2 separate regions of the Homo sapiens genome follow, and region 2 is linked to region 1. A link means that fine-mapping ties the variant in region 1 to the expression of a gene that starts in the linked region. Tissue or cell type: amygdala. Region 1 holds a variant in brackets; the other region holds the start of a gene. All regions are shown on one strand. Distances are from middle to middle.

The links. PIP is the estimated chance that this variant, and not a neighbour inherited with it, causes the effect.
Region 2: CYBRD1 starts here. The variant in region 1 is fine-mapped to the expression of CYBRD1 in amygdala (GTEx, PIP above 0.99).

The regions. Positions count from the first base shown.
Region 1 is chr2:171,214,670-171,222,773 of GRCh38, forward strand. It overlaps a transcript of TLK1 not described here. Among named protein-coding and RNA genes, the nearest start is that of TLK1, 58 kb to the left of the region's middle. The variant C/T (reference allele first, on the strand shown) is at 4,216.
Region 2 is chr2:171,518,761-171,526,864 of GRCh38, forward strand. It overlaps CYBRD1 (cytochrome b reductase 1), which reads left to right and starts at 3,714. Exons shown (of 4, transcript NM_024843.4): 1 at 3,714-3,978. The coding sequence starts at 3,786. RefSeq lists an enhancer at 3,803-3,912 and silencers at 4,023-4,132, 4,283-4,352.

The sequences.
Region 1 (8,104 bases):
AGTTGCTGGTCTTGGAAGAACCATACTTTGAGGACCAATGTATGATAAGAACTTAGAATCCCCTGGAATTTAGTAATTAATCAATCAGTCATAAGCTGCACTTTTATTATTTCTAACAAATTACTTTCTATACTTTGCTTCAACTCCTGAATTAGTAACCCCTCAAGGTCTTCCAGCTAAAGAATTCTGTGATGTTTAAGTGAGTCAAGACAATGGGCCTTGATTCAGCAACTGAAGCCTGACTCCGCCTGCAATCATGTTCTCTTTCAACTCTTTTCTTTTTTTTTTTGAGACGGGGCCTTGCTCTGTCTCCCAGGCTGGTGTATAGTCATATGATCATGGCCCATTGTAACCTCTAACTCCTGGGTTCAAGCAATCCTCCCATCTTAGTCTCCCGAGTAGCTGGGACTACAGGTTGGCAACACCACACCTGGCTAATTTTTGTAGTTTTTGTAGAGGCGGGCACTTGCTATGTTGCCCAGGCTAGTCTCAAATGCCTGGGCTCAAGTGATCTGCCCACCTCAGCCTCCCAAAATGCTGGGATTACAGGCGTGAGCCGCCGTGCCCACTCTCTCTCTCAACTCTTTCAGTATCCTCTCCACCTCACCTTCCACTCCACCTACATAAAGACACTAACATTCAGTTTCATAGGAAAGAGGATGGCTTATTGTGTTTAGTTTCCAACACAAATACAGAACAGAGTGCTCTTCTCCAAGTCTTGTCAGTTGTGATGCTCTTTTTCCTCAGCGATCTGAGGGAATCAAGTCTGCATTCAGGCTCTGCTGTGGCTGGAGTTAGGTCACACTAGGCAGAGCAAATCTGCTTTAAGAATGTCCAAGACAGGCACGGTGATGTATTGCTCTTACTCTGATAGAGCCTACAGGTCATTTTAAGTTGAAATCCAAAAGGAACCAAAGGAAATTTAAATTATATATATAGGCTTCCCTAATAGTGATATATTTTCCTTGAAAACATTTCAATCAATTGTTTTTCAGAGGTTGGTTGTCCAAAAGAAGAAATATTTCTCTGGGGGCTTTGGAAGTCTCTTGACTTTATAGTCTGTCAGAGGCCAAGAAAGGCAATTTAGTAGCATAGGCAGTGAGCAGCTGCCCACTCCTCGGAAGTTCGGTTCCTCTTAGAAGGAGGCCCCAGCGGGTACATGCACGCGGTGGAACGCTTTATTCCCTTTAACAATATGCGCACCACCACCCCTTTCTAGTGGGAATTGATTACAAGAATAATCAACTCATGGTTCCTCATTTTTCATAAAATTAGCTAACACATATCAAGATTCTCTTTGTGCCAGGCGTTGTTCTAAGGACTTTCCTGGCATTAGTTCACTTAATCCTTATAACAATTCTGTAAATTCTGTTATTATCTCCATTTTACAGACAGCAAACTGAGGCACTAGGAATTAGTTAACTTGCCCAAGGTCATACCTGTTAATAAGAGGTAAAGATAGTATTCAAACTAATTCTGGCTCCAGAGTTGCACACTAACCACTATGCTGCCTTAAAAAAACAAGGGCCGGGTGCAGTGGCTCACGCCTGTAATCCCAGCACTTTGGGAGGCCGAGGCGGGCAGATCACGAGGTCAGGAGATTGAGACCATCCTGGCTAATACGGTGAAACCCTGTCTCTACTAAAAATACAAAAAATTAGCCGGGTGTGGTGGTGGGCGCCTGTAGTCCCAGCTACTCGGGAGGCTGAGGCAGGAGAATGGCATGAACCCGGGAGGTGGAGCTTGCAGTGAGCCGAGATCATGCCACTGCACTCCAGCCTGGGCGACAGAGCAAGACTCCGTCTCAAAAACAAAACAAAACAAAAAAACAGAGAATAACAACTTACGAGATTAATGAAATCCAGAATTCCAAGGTCTTATTTGACTTGTCTATTTGACAAGTAGAAACTATTATGGGTTGAATTGTGTCCCTCCTCACCCCCTAAAACATATGTTGGAGTCGTAACCCCTAGTACCTTAGAATATGACCTTATTTAGAAGTAGGGCCATTATAGTTGTAATTAGTTAAGATGAGCTCATACTGGAGTACTGTGGGCCCCCAATCCAATATAACTGATGTTCTTAAAAGACAGCCATGTAAAGACAAAGATACACAGGGAAAACGTCATGTAACAACAAAGGCAGAGATTGGAGTTATGCAGTTGCAAGACAAGGCATGCCAAAGACAGCCAGCGAACCATCAGAAGCTGGAAGAGCCAAGGAAGAATTTTCCTATAAGATTCAGAGGGAATGCAGCCCTGCCTTGATTTCAGACTTCTAACCCACAGAAGTATAAGGCGACACATTTCTGTTATTTTAAGCCACTCAGTGTGTAGCACTTTTTTACGGCAGCCCTAGGAAACTGATACCAAACTGATGCATTTATCCTCCCTACTTTTTCACTGTTACCTCCTACCTTCCAACAGCAGTGCCACAGAACAGGAGTCCCACTTGTTAGGGAAAGAAACAAAAACCTGAGTTATTCATTCATTCAGAGCCTGGCATGATTGCTGCCACATTATAGATGCTTAATAAGTGTTTGTTGATTGAATGAATTCTTCCAACATTTATGAAGGGATTGCTTTTTGCAATGATTATAATAAAAATGGGACAAACGAACTTACAAATCAAGAGTAGACAGTAGATACCATTCTCCCTCTCAAATCCACAGGTAACTTGGGAGGTATTATTACTGAAGTTTCTTCCAGCATCCCTAACATAAGGAAAAATGACCATTTTGAGAACTGGTTTCTGGACCCTCCTGTTCCATTGATCTCTTTGTCAGTTTGGGAGTCGTATTTCACCTCTTTTCCATTTCCTTGCCCCCCTCTGGTGGAGGCGCTAATGAATGGAGAAGGGTATGAAAAGCAGACAGCAGGAGGGAGGAACACAACTCCCAAAGCTGATCATGAGGGCTTGGATAATTGAGAGGACACCACTGTCAGATGGCAGAGAAAGCACTCTGAACATGCTTCAGACATTAACATCTAATGAAAGCTTATAAAGGTACTTTGAAACAGGTTTGCCCAAAGTCAGAGTGAAATGATTATTCTGAACAAAATTCAATAAACAAGTTGAGTGAAAAGAGAGAACAAAGAAGAGTACGTGTAATATGGTCTTATTTTTATAAAGCAATAACAAAAATTTCTGCATATATATGTGTGACTAAAATTGTTTGTGTACATTTATGAATATTTAAAGTTGTATGAACATGGACAAAGATGGGGAAGAATACCGTATTAGTTTCCTATGGCTGCTATAACAAATTGCTACAAACTTGGTGTATTAAAACAACAGAGTAAGGCCGGGCATGGTGGTTCATGCCTGTAATCCCAGCACTTTGGGAGGCGGAGGCGGGCAGATCACAAGGTCAGGAGATCAAGACCATCCTGGCTAACATGGTGAAACCCTGTCTATACTAAAAATACAAAAAAATTAGCCAGGTGTGGTGGCACATGCCTGTAGTTCCAGCTACTCGGGAGGTTGAGGCAGGAGAATTGCTTAAACCCAGAGGCAGAGGTTGCAGTGAGCTGAGATTGCATCACTGCACTCCAGCCTGGTGACAGAGGGAGACTCCATCGCATAACAAACAAACAAACAACAACAACAACAACAAATAACAACAACAAAAAAAAAACAGAGTAGTCAAATTCATAGAGACGGAAAGTAGAATGGTGGTTGCCCATAGGCTAGAGATGGAGGGGAATAGAATGTCGTTTAATGGGTATAAAGTTTCAGTTTTGCCAGATGAAAAGAGTTCTGGAAGAGACTGGTTGTACAACAATGAAAATGTACTTAACACTACTGTACTATACACTTAAAAAGTTGGTGTCTTAGTTCATTTATGCTGCTATAACACAATACCTGAGACTGGGTAATTTATAAACAATGGAAATTTATTTCTCGCAGTTTTGGGGGCTGGGAAGTCCAAGATCAAGGTGCCAGCAGGTTTGATGTCTGGCAAGGGCTGCTCTCTGCTTCCAAGATGGCACCTTGTTGCTGCATCCTCTGGGGGGACTAACCCTCATGTTAGTGTCCTCATGTGGAGAGGCAAAAGTGCAAAAAGGGGGCAAATACTGTGTGAAGTTCTTTTGTAGGAGCCTTAATCCCATTCATGACAGAGGAGTCCTCATTAACTAATCACCTCCTAAAGGCCCTACCTCTTAATACCCTTGCATTAGACATTAAGTTTCAACCTAAATTTTGGAGGGAACA[C/T]AAACATTCAAACCATAGCACATAGTAAATTTTATATTTTGTGTATTTTGCCAAAAAACCCACAATTTTTTAAAGCTTTACCTTTGAGGTAGGTATTGTTTTCTAGCCCCATTTTGGAGAAAAATAAGGTGCAAGAATATGCCCAAGATCACAATGATAGATTCAAATCCAGGACGATTTGACTCTAAAGGCCTTGCTCCTAACCATATCAAAAGTAAAATAAACAGTCTCCAATTATTAAAACAAAACAAAACCCCATAAAATTGTTTTCTTTCAGTTCTGGAGACCAGAAGTTTGAAATCAGCTTCACTAGGCCAAAAGCAAGGTGTTGGCAGGGCTGCACACCCTCTGTAGTCTCCAGGAGAGTTCATTCCTTGCCTCTTTCAAATTATGGAGGCTGCTGGCATTCCTTGGCTTGTGGCTGCATCACTCTAATCTCTGCCTCTGTGGTCACATTGCCTTCTCTTCTGTGTGAATCGAGTCTCCCTCTGTCTCTCTCTGTCTTAGTTCAGGCTGCTATAACAAAATACCATAGGCTGGGTGGCTTATAAGCAACAGAAATGTATTTCTCATAGTTCTGGAGGCTGGGAGTCCAGCATTAGGGTGACAGCATGGTCACATTCTGGTGAGGGCCCTCTTTTGGGTTGCAGACTGCCAATGTCTTGTATTTTCACATGGCAGAAAGAGTCAAGAGAGCTTTCTGGGGTCCCTCCCCCCACCTTTTTTTTTTTTTTGAGACAGGGTCTTGCTTTATCACCCAGGCTGGAGTGCAGTGGTGCCATCTTGGCTTCCTGCAACCTCCATCTCCTGGGTTCAAGAAATTCTCATGCCTCAGCCTCCTGAGTAGCTGGAATTAAAGGCACGTGCCACCACATCTGGCTAATTTTTGTATTTTTAGTAGAAATAGGGTTTTGCCATGTTGGCCAGGCTAGTCTCAAACTCCTGACCTCAAGTGATCTGCCCACCTCGGCTTCCCAAAGTGCTGGGATTACAGGTGTGAGCCACCACTCCTGGCCTCTGGGGTCCTTTTTTAAGGGCACTAATTTAATTCATGAGTGCTCTAACCTCATGACCTAATTACTTCCCAAAGTCTCTAGCTCCCAACATTATCGCTTTGGGGGTTAGGGTTTCAACATAGGAATTTTGGGAGGACACAAACATTCTGTCCATTGTACTCTTTTTGAAAGACTCTGATTGCATTTAGGGCATACCTGGACAACTCAGAATAATATTTCCATTTCAATATCCTTAATTTAGTTAAATCTGCAAAGACCCTTTTTCCATATAAGATAACATTTCCATGTAAGATAACATTTACAGGTTCTGGGAATTAGGCCCTGCTATCTTTTAGGGACCATTCTTCAGCCTCCCAAAGATGTGTACTACATCATCAATATGAAGGGAGCAGCATGGCAGCCAGCCTTCAAGATGAGCCCTGGTGATTTGCCTCTTGATATTCATGCCTTTTCGAAGTCAGCTCCCACAAGGAATGAGAGCTGTCTGTGTGACAAACATAATATGGCAGAAGTGACAGTGTATGATTTCCAGACAAAGTCATAAAGGATGTTACGGTTTCTGCCTTGCTGCCTTTGGTAGCTTGCTCTGAGAGTAAGCCATCATGTGGGGACACTCAAGCAGCCTCATAGAGAGACCCACATGGGGAGGACTATCGCCTCCCACCAACAACCAGCACCAACTTGCCAATTATGTGAGTGTGACACCTTGGAAGTAGATCCTTGATCGTCAAGCAAGCCTTTAGAGGACTGCAGACTTAGAACTGCTCAACTAGCCAGCCAAGTTTCCCCTCACCCATACAACTATGAAGATAGTGTTTGTTTTTTTTTTTGAGTCATTAAGTTGGGAAGGTGATTTGTAATACAGGTAGTGATGTGGGAGAAGGAGAAACCAAGCCTCCTTCATTGCCCCTCTCACCCCCTAAAAACCCTATCCTAAACAAATAAACAAAACCTCCTCATCCTACCCACATATTTAAATAAAATTATATATTTTTACAATTTCCACAGAGAGGCCAGGCTCACGTCTGTAATCCCAGCACTTTGGGAAGCCAAGGTGGGAGGATCGCTTGAGCCCAGGAGTTTGAGACCAGGTTGGGCAAGTTGGTGAGTCCCTGTCTCTACAAAAAATTTAAGAAACAAATTTCCACAGAGAAAAATTGGGGCTTATATGTTAATAATCTCTAGGAATAAGTAATGGACTTGAGTGGCACACAGCATTCCACATTTCTGGGAGCAGAGAGCACATTTCTGGTTTTGTCATAGTTATCCTTTATTTTCTTTTACCAGGAAGTGTAATGAATATCTGTTATCATTACTTAGACACTGTCCATTTGCTTTTCTTCTGGTAACGGTGGCCCACTTTTCATCTGGGGAACTACCCTGAAAGGACAGCGTAAGGAACAAAAAAATGAAAAAGAACTAGATTTGGGGTCAGAGCTGGATGCTCGGCGTATGACTTCAATAATCCTTATGAATCAAACATTTAAAGGAGTGCCTATTGTGGTACTGCCCTGCACCTCACCGAAACTTCATGAACACCTTGGAGGAAAGAAGATGATGCATTGCTTTATAAGCTATTTTTTAAAAATCCAAAGCTTTCCATTGCCTAAAAATTAAACATGGATTAATTTAAAGCATTCTACAATATGGTCCGATCTATTTTTCTAGTCTTCCCTTCCTCTTCGTGGCTGATGCATATTTCTCAGCTCAGGCTGCCTTAACGAGTGACTTAAACAACACACATTTATTTTCTCACAGTTCTAGGGGCTGGAAACCAAGATCAAAGTGCCAGTAGGGTTGGTTTTTGTTAGGACCTTTCCTCCTGATTTGGAGACAGCCACCTTCTCACTGTGTCCTCACATGACCTTTCCTCTGTACACATGGAAAAAAACATTTCTGGGGTCTCTGTCTCTTTTTATAAGAGCACTAGTCCTATCCGGTTAGGGCCCTACCCTTATTGGGCCTTATTTAACCATTATTACCTCCTTCAAGTCACCATATCCAAATACAGTCACATGGGGGGTTAGGGCGTCAGCATATGAATTTTTTGGAGGACACATTTACTGCTCACCAAATACCCATGCGTTCCTCAACATTTCCCAGGCCTCTTATAGTCAGTCAGGATTGTGTGACTGGTTCTGGCCAATTAGCTGTTGACAAAAAATACATATGTCCCTTTTGAGTGAAGCTTTTAAATGCTGATGCATGATCCTTCAATTCTCCCTTCTTTTCTCATGGCAACCTACAAGCCAGCTATAAAATGCTGTAGACTCCCTTATCCTGGGTCTGTGAATGGCTATGTGGGAAGACAACCCCAGTCCCACTAGACATGCATCACAAATTAGAAAGAAACCTTTGTGGTGTTAAGTCTTTGGGATTTCAGGGTAAATTTGTAATTAAGCAAAACCTACTATTTCCTAATTCTTTTTTATTTATTTATTTATTTATTTTTGAGACAGGGTCTTGCTCTGTTGCCGAGGCTGGAGTGGGACGATCACAGCTCCCTGCAGTGTTGACATCCCCAGGCTCAAGCCATCCTCCCATCTCAGCCTGCCCAGGAGCTAGAACCAAAGGCGCACATCACCATGCCTGCCTAATTTTTTTTGTATTTTGTAGAGACAGGGTTTTGCCATGTTGCTCAGGCTAGTCTTGAATGCCTGGGCTCAAGTGATCCACCCCCCTCTGCCTCCCAAAGTGGTCTTTTTAAATCTTTATGGCTACATAATAGTTTACATATTTATGGGGGACATGTGAAATTTTGATACAACCATATAATGTGTAATGATCAAATGAAGATAATTGGATATCCATCACCTCAAGCATTTATCATTTCTTTGTGTTAGAAACATTCCAATTCTACTCTTCTAGTCATT
Region 2 (8,104 bases), 300 kb after region 1:
TAAAAGGTTAACAGTAAGCCACAACAATGTTTATTGAAAAATTTCCCCTTCTCAGTGACAGTTTTATTTAATATCAAAGTTAGGTTCTTAAAAGATAATTTAAAAGTTGAAATTCTCTCAGTTTTACATATAACTTCAAGATGATTCAACACCATTGGTACCATTTGGCCATGTTTTCATCCTCCCGAAATGTTTTGTTAAATGGGGTCTGGAATCCCAGAGATTCTCATCTGCTGCTGCTATGAAGCAAAATTAACTCAAGAGTGGAGTGAAGGTGTTAGGTCAATGGGGTGAAAACATTAATTGAGGACAAAGACTAGATACTTTTAGGGAGAGGGATAGGGATACAATGATGTCATTATAGAATTACAAGCTAAAGTTCGCAAAGGAAAAGAATCAGTGTAAGATGAAACAGGCAATGTTTGCAGCACTCAGGAACCAAAAAAAGGTCTGAAAAAATAAAACCGGAAGATTCAGGGATAGTTTCCTTTTATTCCTAGGGATCCGCTCTCACTCTTCTCTCTTCTGCTCTGTGCCCTAAGTTGACCTGGGATGGATACATGGACTGCCCTGTGGCTTCTGATTAGGTTCTGGTTAGCCCCTGGGACACCCTAGGCAGAAGATCAGAGGGGAGAAGAGTAAGGCTGGAATATTTATCTGCTTCCATCTTTCTCCCTATGAGGTCTCTGCAGGCTGGCTGCATCCCTGTACTCAAGGCCTCTATCGGACTTCCCCCTCCGCACAATTTTCTCTCTGGATTCCAGTAATTCTCTGCCCTTCAGACCTGGGGCACTGCCTAACCCTGAGGTTTCCTACACTGCCCACAACTTCATAAACAGTCTTGTTCATTATGAAATTACTCAATTCCAATATGCTGTTTGTTTTCTGCCAGGACCCTGATTAACACACTCAGTCTCATTAGCCTCCCAACACATGTTTATTGAGTAACTACCACATCCCAAGGAGGAATAAAATGATCAATTAGAGAATCAATGCCTTCAATAGGGCAGTCTGAGAGTGGAGACAGCCAGAGAAGCAGATCCTTATATTACATCCTGACAGGTGACACAAGGAGGCACTGGATGGGGAGGTCAGTGGGATATAAAAGTCTGGGCAGGGGCAGACTCAGGGAAGGTTTCTCAGTGGAGATGGGGGTCAGGGAAATTTAGAGGCAGTGGCGTGGGTAGGAAGTGGTCAGAAGCTGCCAGAGCAGTTTACAGCCAAGGACATCAGGGCCAGTCAGGTTGTGGTAAGAGACTGGCAGGGGGTGCTAGGCTGGACCAGATCAAAGAAAGCCTTGTGCTGGGGAAAGGTATCCTTCTCTTCCATTTGCTTACTCTCCCCACCAAGGGAAAAATAATGACACAGGTGAGGTCTACAGCCTTTTACTCTGAGCCCTTAATCCTGCCCTACTACCATGGCTTGCCACTCCTATTTCCTTAGCCTGCTTTGAAAATCATCCCCGTATACTTCCTGCACATTCTAAGGTCTTTCAAGACGGCAACAAGACAATATAGCAAAGTAGTCCTTGGAGATGAGCTACAGAAGAGGGCTAGAAGTGAACGTTCCCAAATGCATTCTGGAAGCCCTGGCAGTCAGAACCCTTTTTCTTATAATAGCATTAGATAATGCTGACATTGTTTTTGTCCAGTGGAGAAGGGTGAGGATAATGTTGGAAAGAGGGCAGGGAGCAAGCTTCACTTCATCAAGGAGGGGCTTTGGTTCAAATTGGTTTGGGTGGGCGGGCACTTTGAAAATCCATTTGTCACACTAAACGGCAAGTCCAGGTCCAGGAGGTTCCTGTCTTCCCTCTCTCAAGAGCAAACTGCAAGTAGTTTCATTGCAGGATAAGGCCAAGCCCACCGCTGCCCATGCTGTTTTTGTTTTGTTTCCAGACAGAGTCTAGCTGTCACCAGGCTGCAGTGCAGTGGTGCGATCATACCTCTCCTGAGCTCAAGTGATTCTCTTGCCTCCACCTCCCAAAGCCCTGGGATTACAGCTGTGAGACACCTCATGGGGACCCGGTTTACTGGGTTTTTTTTGTTTTTTGTTTTTTGTTTTTTTTTGAGACAGAGTCTCACTTTGTCACCCAAGCTGAAGTGCAGTGGTGCAACCTCAGCTCACTGCAGCCTCGACCTTCTGGGCTCAAGTGATCCTCCTTCCTCAGTCCCCCAAGTAGCTGGGGCTACAGGTGCATGCATTTGTATTTTCAGTAGAGACAGGGTTTCACCTTGTTGCCCAGGCTGTTCTCAAACTCCTGGACTCAAGTGATCTGCCCGCCTTAGCCTCCCAAAGTGCTAAGATTACAGGTGTGAGGCACTGCGCCTGGCCTTTACTGTTAACTTAAAACAAAAAATTATAAATTTGAAAAAAGAGGAGACTTTATTTCTTATAAAAGGTTATAGCCTGCAAGGAGGCCATTCCATAGGCTGATAAACATAGCCTCTGGCCTAAGACCAGAGACAGGCACTTGGAAGGCAGAGGGGTTGGGGTAGGAGCTTTATGCTGAACAGTTTGGCCAAACATACATACGTAACAGGTTACAGGAGGAGCTATGAATATTAATGGAGGTGGTCCTTACACATGCATATTGAACAAACATGCATGTAACATGTTCTCTTTGGGGTGGAGACTTAACATTTAATTGTATTACTTCAAATACATTTAAATGTATTACTTCAAACCTACACTTCAAAAGGTCTTTTCAGGACGTGAATGCATACAAGTGCACAATCCCTGTACACTGGCCAGAACCGGTCCATGGTCGGTCTTCTTATCATGAAAAAGTTCCTGAAATCAGCCCAGTGAAAGCTGTAGTTCTGGCTGGTGCAACAGGGGTTCAGCTGGTCAGCATCTGTGAACTGATTAAGTTGTAATTGTTTTAATATTGCTTATCTCAAGCCAGTGCTTGTTTAGCCTCTAGAGGAAAAGAAAACCTTTGTGGCAGTTAGACCATAGTTTATTTCTTAAGTGTAGGAGTGTGTGACTTAGGTCCTTTTTATAATTTGATGTCTTATTGCTACAAAGAGTCTGTTCTGTCCGCCTTATGATTTCTATTTTAAACATTAATGCTAGTCAGCTGTTGAGTCTAAATTCCAAAATGGAGGGGGTAGACTTCCCTTCCGGCTGTAGCTAGAAACTCAGCTTTAAGGTTTTTCTGGGGTCTGCTTGGCCAAGGAGGTCCATTCAGTCAGTGAGGGGCTTAGGATTTTATTTTTAGTTTACACCACCTTACAGGTTCCTCCTTAACACCCTTTGATGTCAGAGACAGCCAATTCTCCAGCACTGTGGCTAAGGAGGCTTCGTTAGTAGTTAAAAGCACACACATAACCCTACCCAACGGATCCCTCTCTTCTCTTAACCAAGAGGGCGCACCACTGCCCTACTCAACCTCCCCACAAATAAGGACGAGACACGGGAAGTGTTAAAAGCAAGTGGTGAGTATAAAATCCTCGGAATTTTCTCTTTGAGCAACTAACTAGGTCTGTTACTGAAGCCCTCTGCGAGCTTGGATGCTGGACGAGGGAGAGGGTGAGGCCACCAGGCAATGAGCGCCCTCGGCGGCCGCGTGATCCCGGGGGTGGGGCCCATTTCTGAGTTGGGGCCAGCTCCCCACCCCCAAGAGGCCCCACATTCCGGGCCAGCAGCCCAGAAAGTCCCTCCCCGCAGGCGGAGACAGCCCCAAGAAGTCGACGCCCCGGTCCCGCCGCCCGGCCACTACCCAGAGGGCTGCCGCCGCCTCTCCAAGTTCTTGTGGCCCCCGCGGTGCGGAGTATGGGGCGCTGATGGCCATGGAGGGCTACTGGCGCTTCCTGGCGCTGCTGGGGTCGGCACTGCTCGTCGGCTTCCTGTCGGTGATCTTCGCCCTCGTCTGGGTCCTCCACTACCGAGAGGGGCTTGGCTGGGATGGGAGCGCACTAGAGTTTAACTGGCACCCAGTGCTCATGGTCACCGGCTTCGTCTTCATCCAGGGCATCGGTACTGGCACCTCCTGGGGGGGTGCGGGGAGGAAAGCGGGGAGAACGGCGGGGGCAGAGGGTCCTCCGTGAAGCCCCTTCCAGCTGAGGAAGTGCTGGAGGATCGCGGGGCCCGGAGGAGTGCGGTGAGGAGCGCGCGGGAAGCCAAGTCGGCTGGGCGGGAGGGAGGCTGGCTGGCTCTGGGGCGGGACAGAGCTGCGGTTCAGGAGGATCGCCGCGAGCGCGGGGCCGGGGGTGCGCGGTGGAGACGCGCTGCTGGGGGCGGCGGAGCGGGGCCGGCCCCACTTGGTTAACTCTTTGCGGCGACTGGCTAGGACGCACTGGAGGGGCCTCCAAGACCCAGAAACTTGAGCCCGGGCGCGATGCCGGAGCGCCGCGCAGTCGGGCCGCTGCAGCCCACGCGCCCCGGAAAGTCGCCCCTGTGGACCGAGCCTGCGCGATCGGGGGCGCGGAAACACTTTCGCCTCAGCCTTTTGCTGAACTTGCTTCCAGGCTGCAGATGAGGAGGGGAAGGCAGCGGGGAAAAGATTGCCGGAGCGAGAATTTGCCCGTATTTGTAACATCCTCGGCCCTGGGTAAAGGGGCTGGCCAAGGGGGGCGAGTGAAGCATCCGCCCTGGGTTCCTCTCCTCCTAGAGTGTTAAACTCAGTCGAGTCCGGGAAGCTGCCAGGACTTCCAAGTGTGTTTCGCCGCCCTGCCCAGTCATTGGACGGTCTTGAGCCCGACTTGTTTATGTGGCAGAAGAGTGGCGAAAGTTCCCCCGCGGGGCTTCCTATTGGGCACTGGCCCAGCACTCCGGGTGGGAGATGCCCGGAGAGGGCCCGCGGCTGCCTGGCACCGAGGGATGCCTCTGCTCGGGATGCCCCCGGCGCAAGCTGCGTCCGTGTTTGGCCCGCGGCGAGCCAGCCCCGGGCCTGCATTCTCTGGGCTGAGGCTGGCGCGGGGGAGGGGCTCAGCAGTCGCTGGCAATGTTTGTTGTCATTGTGTAGTGCCTCTCAATGTCCTGACTGCTTCCTTCGGTTTGCCGTGTAGCTGGAGGAACCTCTAGCTTTTGGCGCAAACACCATTTATTTGTAACCACTTCCCCAAAGGCACGGCCTTCAGAAAGTAGTTAGAGAAAGGCAGCAAGGGGTGGAGTGGTGTTATGTCGCAGAAAATAATCGAGAGGAGTAGCAAGGGTTTGGAAAGATATGCCCACTGGCCGAAATCTCTAGCTTTGCCTGCGGGCAGGCTGCCTTTTCTTCACCAAATATTTAACTCCCCACAAACGAGTGTGCAAAAGAGTGCTGACCTCATTCCTAAAGAAAAGTGATTTTGGCTTTTGTTTTTGTTGGTTGTTTTAAACTTGTACTGCAGCTTTGGCAAGTGTGGCCAGCATTCTCCCACTCTGGAATGTAGTGGAAGGTGTTACTAACCCTCAGCATTCAAAGGCTTCCCTGGTGTGAGATCGGCATCAGGGTGTGAGATCGGCATCAGGGTGTGAGCACCACTGGGCACCTAAGGCATTTCGTTGCGTAACTCTCAGTTATTTTGCCACTATGCTTATAAGAAAAAAACATACTCAAGTTCCAAAGTAACTGTCAGAAGCACTCTTTCCTTCGTGGTGGAGCCCTTAAGTTTGGCCCCGAGCTGTCTACACCTTGTTTGCTCAAAGAGTAGAGCCAGTCTCCTCTTCTACCCAACTCTTCAGAGCAGCTTCTAATACCAAAAAGCTTTCTGGAGGTCTTGGAATATCTTCTCATAATTGAGGGTAAGGGAAACACAAGTGTTATTGCTCGTTGCCTGACTTGCCACAGAGGAGAAGACATCAGAATGGCTAATAGTGATTGCATGCTGTGTGTCCACTAAGTGCATTATGTCACATCACATGTATGTAAGAGTAAACTGAGGCAGAGAAGTTATGTAACTTACCCATGAAAGTTGTTTTAAGTCTTTTCAGTGACCTTATCGTCAAAGTTGGATTCTCTGCTTTTATGGCAATATGCTTATTTTCTGCCAAATCTTTTTAGACAGCGAAAACCTTCATCTAAAATATGTTTTGAAACTCTTCATTCATGTTAGAGTCCAATATACGGTTTTCTAAAAGGTTTTTAAATTTCTCTAAACTTTGTACTTCTCTTAATCTGTTCATACTTAACTCTTGGACAAAAATGTGTAAATTTTGGCAATTTTCATCTGCTGCTCTTACGAAAATCTTGTTTCTTTTTTTCTTTCTTTCAAGACGTAGTCTTGCTCTGTCGCCCAGGCTGGAGTGCAGTGGCGCAATCTTGGCTCACTGCAACCTCCACCTCCCAGGTTCAAGCAATTCTCCTGCCCCAGCCTCCCCAGTAGCTGGGATTACAGATGCCTACCACCACGCCCAGCTAATTTTTGTATTTTTAGTAGAGACGGGGTTTCACCATGTTGGCCAGGCTGGCCTCGAATTCCTGACCTCAAGTGATCCGCCTACCTCGGCCCCCCAGACTGCTGAGATTACAGACGTGAGCCACAGTACCCGGCCGATCTTGTTTTCTTTAGGTTCAATTACTGTATTTGTATCAATGGTCCAGAGTTTGTCCCGTCATTACTCATCCTGTTTCCTGTTTGGATCCTGGATGTGCAAATCACTTTAATCATAATGCATTTAATTGACATGAGCATAAATGTTTTCATACATGTAGGCACATGTATAGTTCTCCCCAGTTCTTCCATATCTTGGCCAACCCATCCACATTCCTCACCCTAAGTATTAGGAAGGCTCCAGTGGAAGGAGGGGGAGTAATAAATAAACTTTATAGGCTGCGAGGGACCCACATGTTACAGACTCGCCATGTTATAACAGACTTTTTTACCGTGTGTGATTGCTGCAAGGAGGAAAATTTTAGGCTATGAGATTTCAAATCTCTAACAAAGAACACGATGTATTGGAGTTCTTCTCTTCTGTAATACACAAATATTTGGAGATGAAGAAGAGAAGGCTAAAGTACAGTTATTACTCTAAGTATAAAATGCTTTAGAAATGCAATATACAAATAGTAAACAATATTTGAAACTAAGAACAAGTATGAGTCCTTTGAAACACCTTTAAGAAGTAGGCTCTGGGCCGGCACAGTCCAGCTACTTGGGAGGCTGAGGCAGGAGAATTGCTTGAACTCGGGAAACGGAGGTTGCGGTGAGTCGAGATCTTGCCATTGCACTTCAGCCTGGGCAACAAGAGCGAAACTCCCGTCTAAAAAAAAAAAAAAAAAAAAAAAAAGAAGTAGGCTCTGGCCGGGCACGGTGGCTTACGCCTATAATCCCAGCACTTTGGGAGGCTGAGGCGAGTGGATCCCCTGAGGTCAGGAGTTCGAGACCAGCCTGGCCAACATGGTGAAACACTGTCTCTACTAAAAATACGAAAATTAGCTGGGCGTGGTGGCAGGCACCTGTAATCCCAGGTACTCAGGAGTCTGAGACAGGAGAATTGCTTGAACCTGGGAGGTGGAGGTTGCAGTGAGCCAAGATTGTGCCACTGCACTGTAGCCTGGGCAACAGAGTGAGATTCTGTCTCGAAAAAAAAAGAGGGATAAACTCCAAAGAAGCAAAGCTAACATAGAAGTTACAAAACAAATCTCCCTCTCCTTCTTTATTCCCCTTTCCCTTTCTCGCTCACCCTCTCTCTCCTTGTCCCATTTTCTCCTCTGTGTCCCTCTCCCTTCCTTTCCCCCTCTCTCTCCCCTCCTTTCCCCCTCTCTCTCCCCACCTCCCATACTCCAAGTATATTTTGGAATATGTATATATTCTAAATTAAAGTATAACAGATCATGGGAAATCTAAAACTAAAATAAAATTTTAAACTAGTGGGAAATCTAGCTAACAGACTCTAACATGAATGAGGAAGGGTTTAGAAGAGGCTTTGTGCTTCTCTGAAAGAAATGTTTCCCATGAAATAAGTATACTACTAGGAAATCAGAGAAACGAACCTTGAAAAGAGGGCCACAGAAAAGACTGAAACAAATAAACGCTGTCAAAGTGGCTGTTGACCTTTTAAAAGGTTCAGCAAGGTGGAATGTGTTCTTTAGTGAAAGGTAGAAAATTCGGGTGTCTACATTTAGCGAAAAGAAGTCTTGGCAATTCTATATTCCTTCCTTTCCTGTGTAGAACTCCTT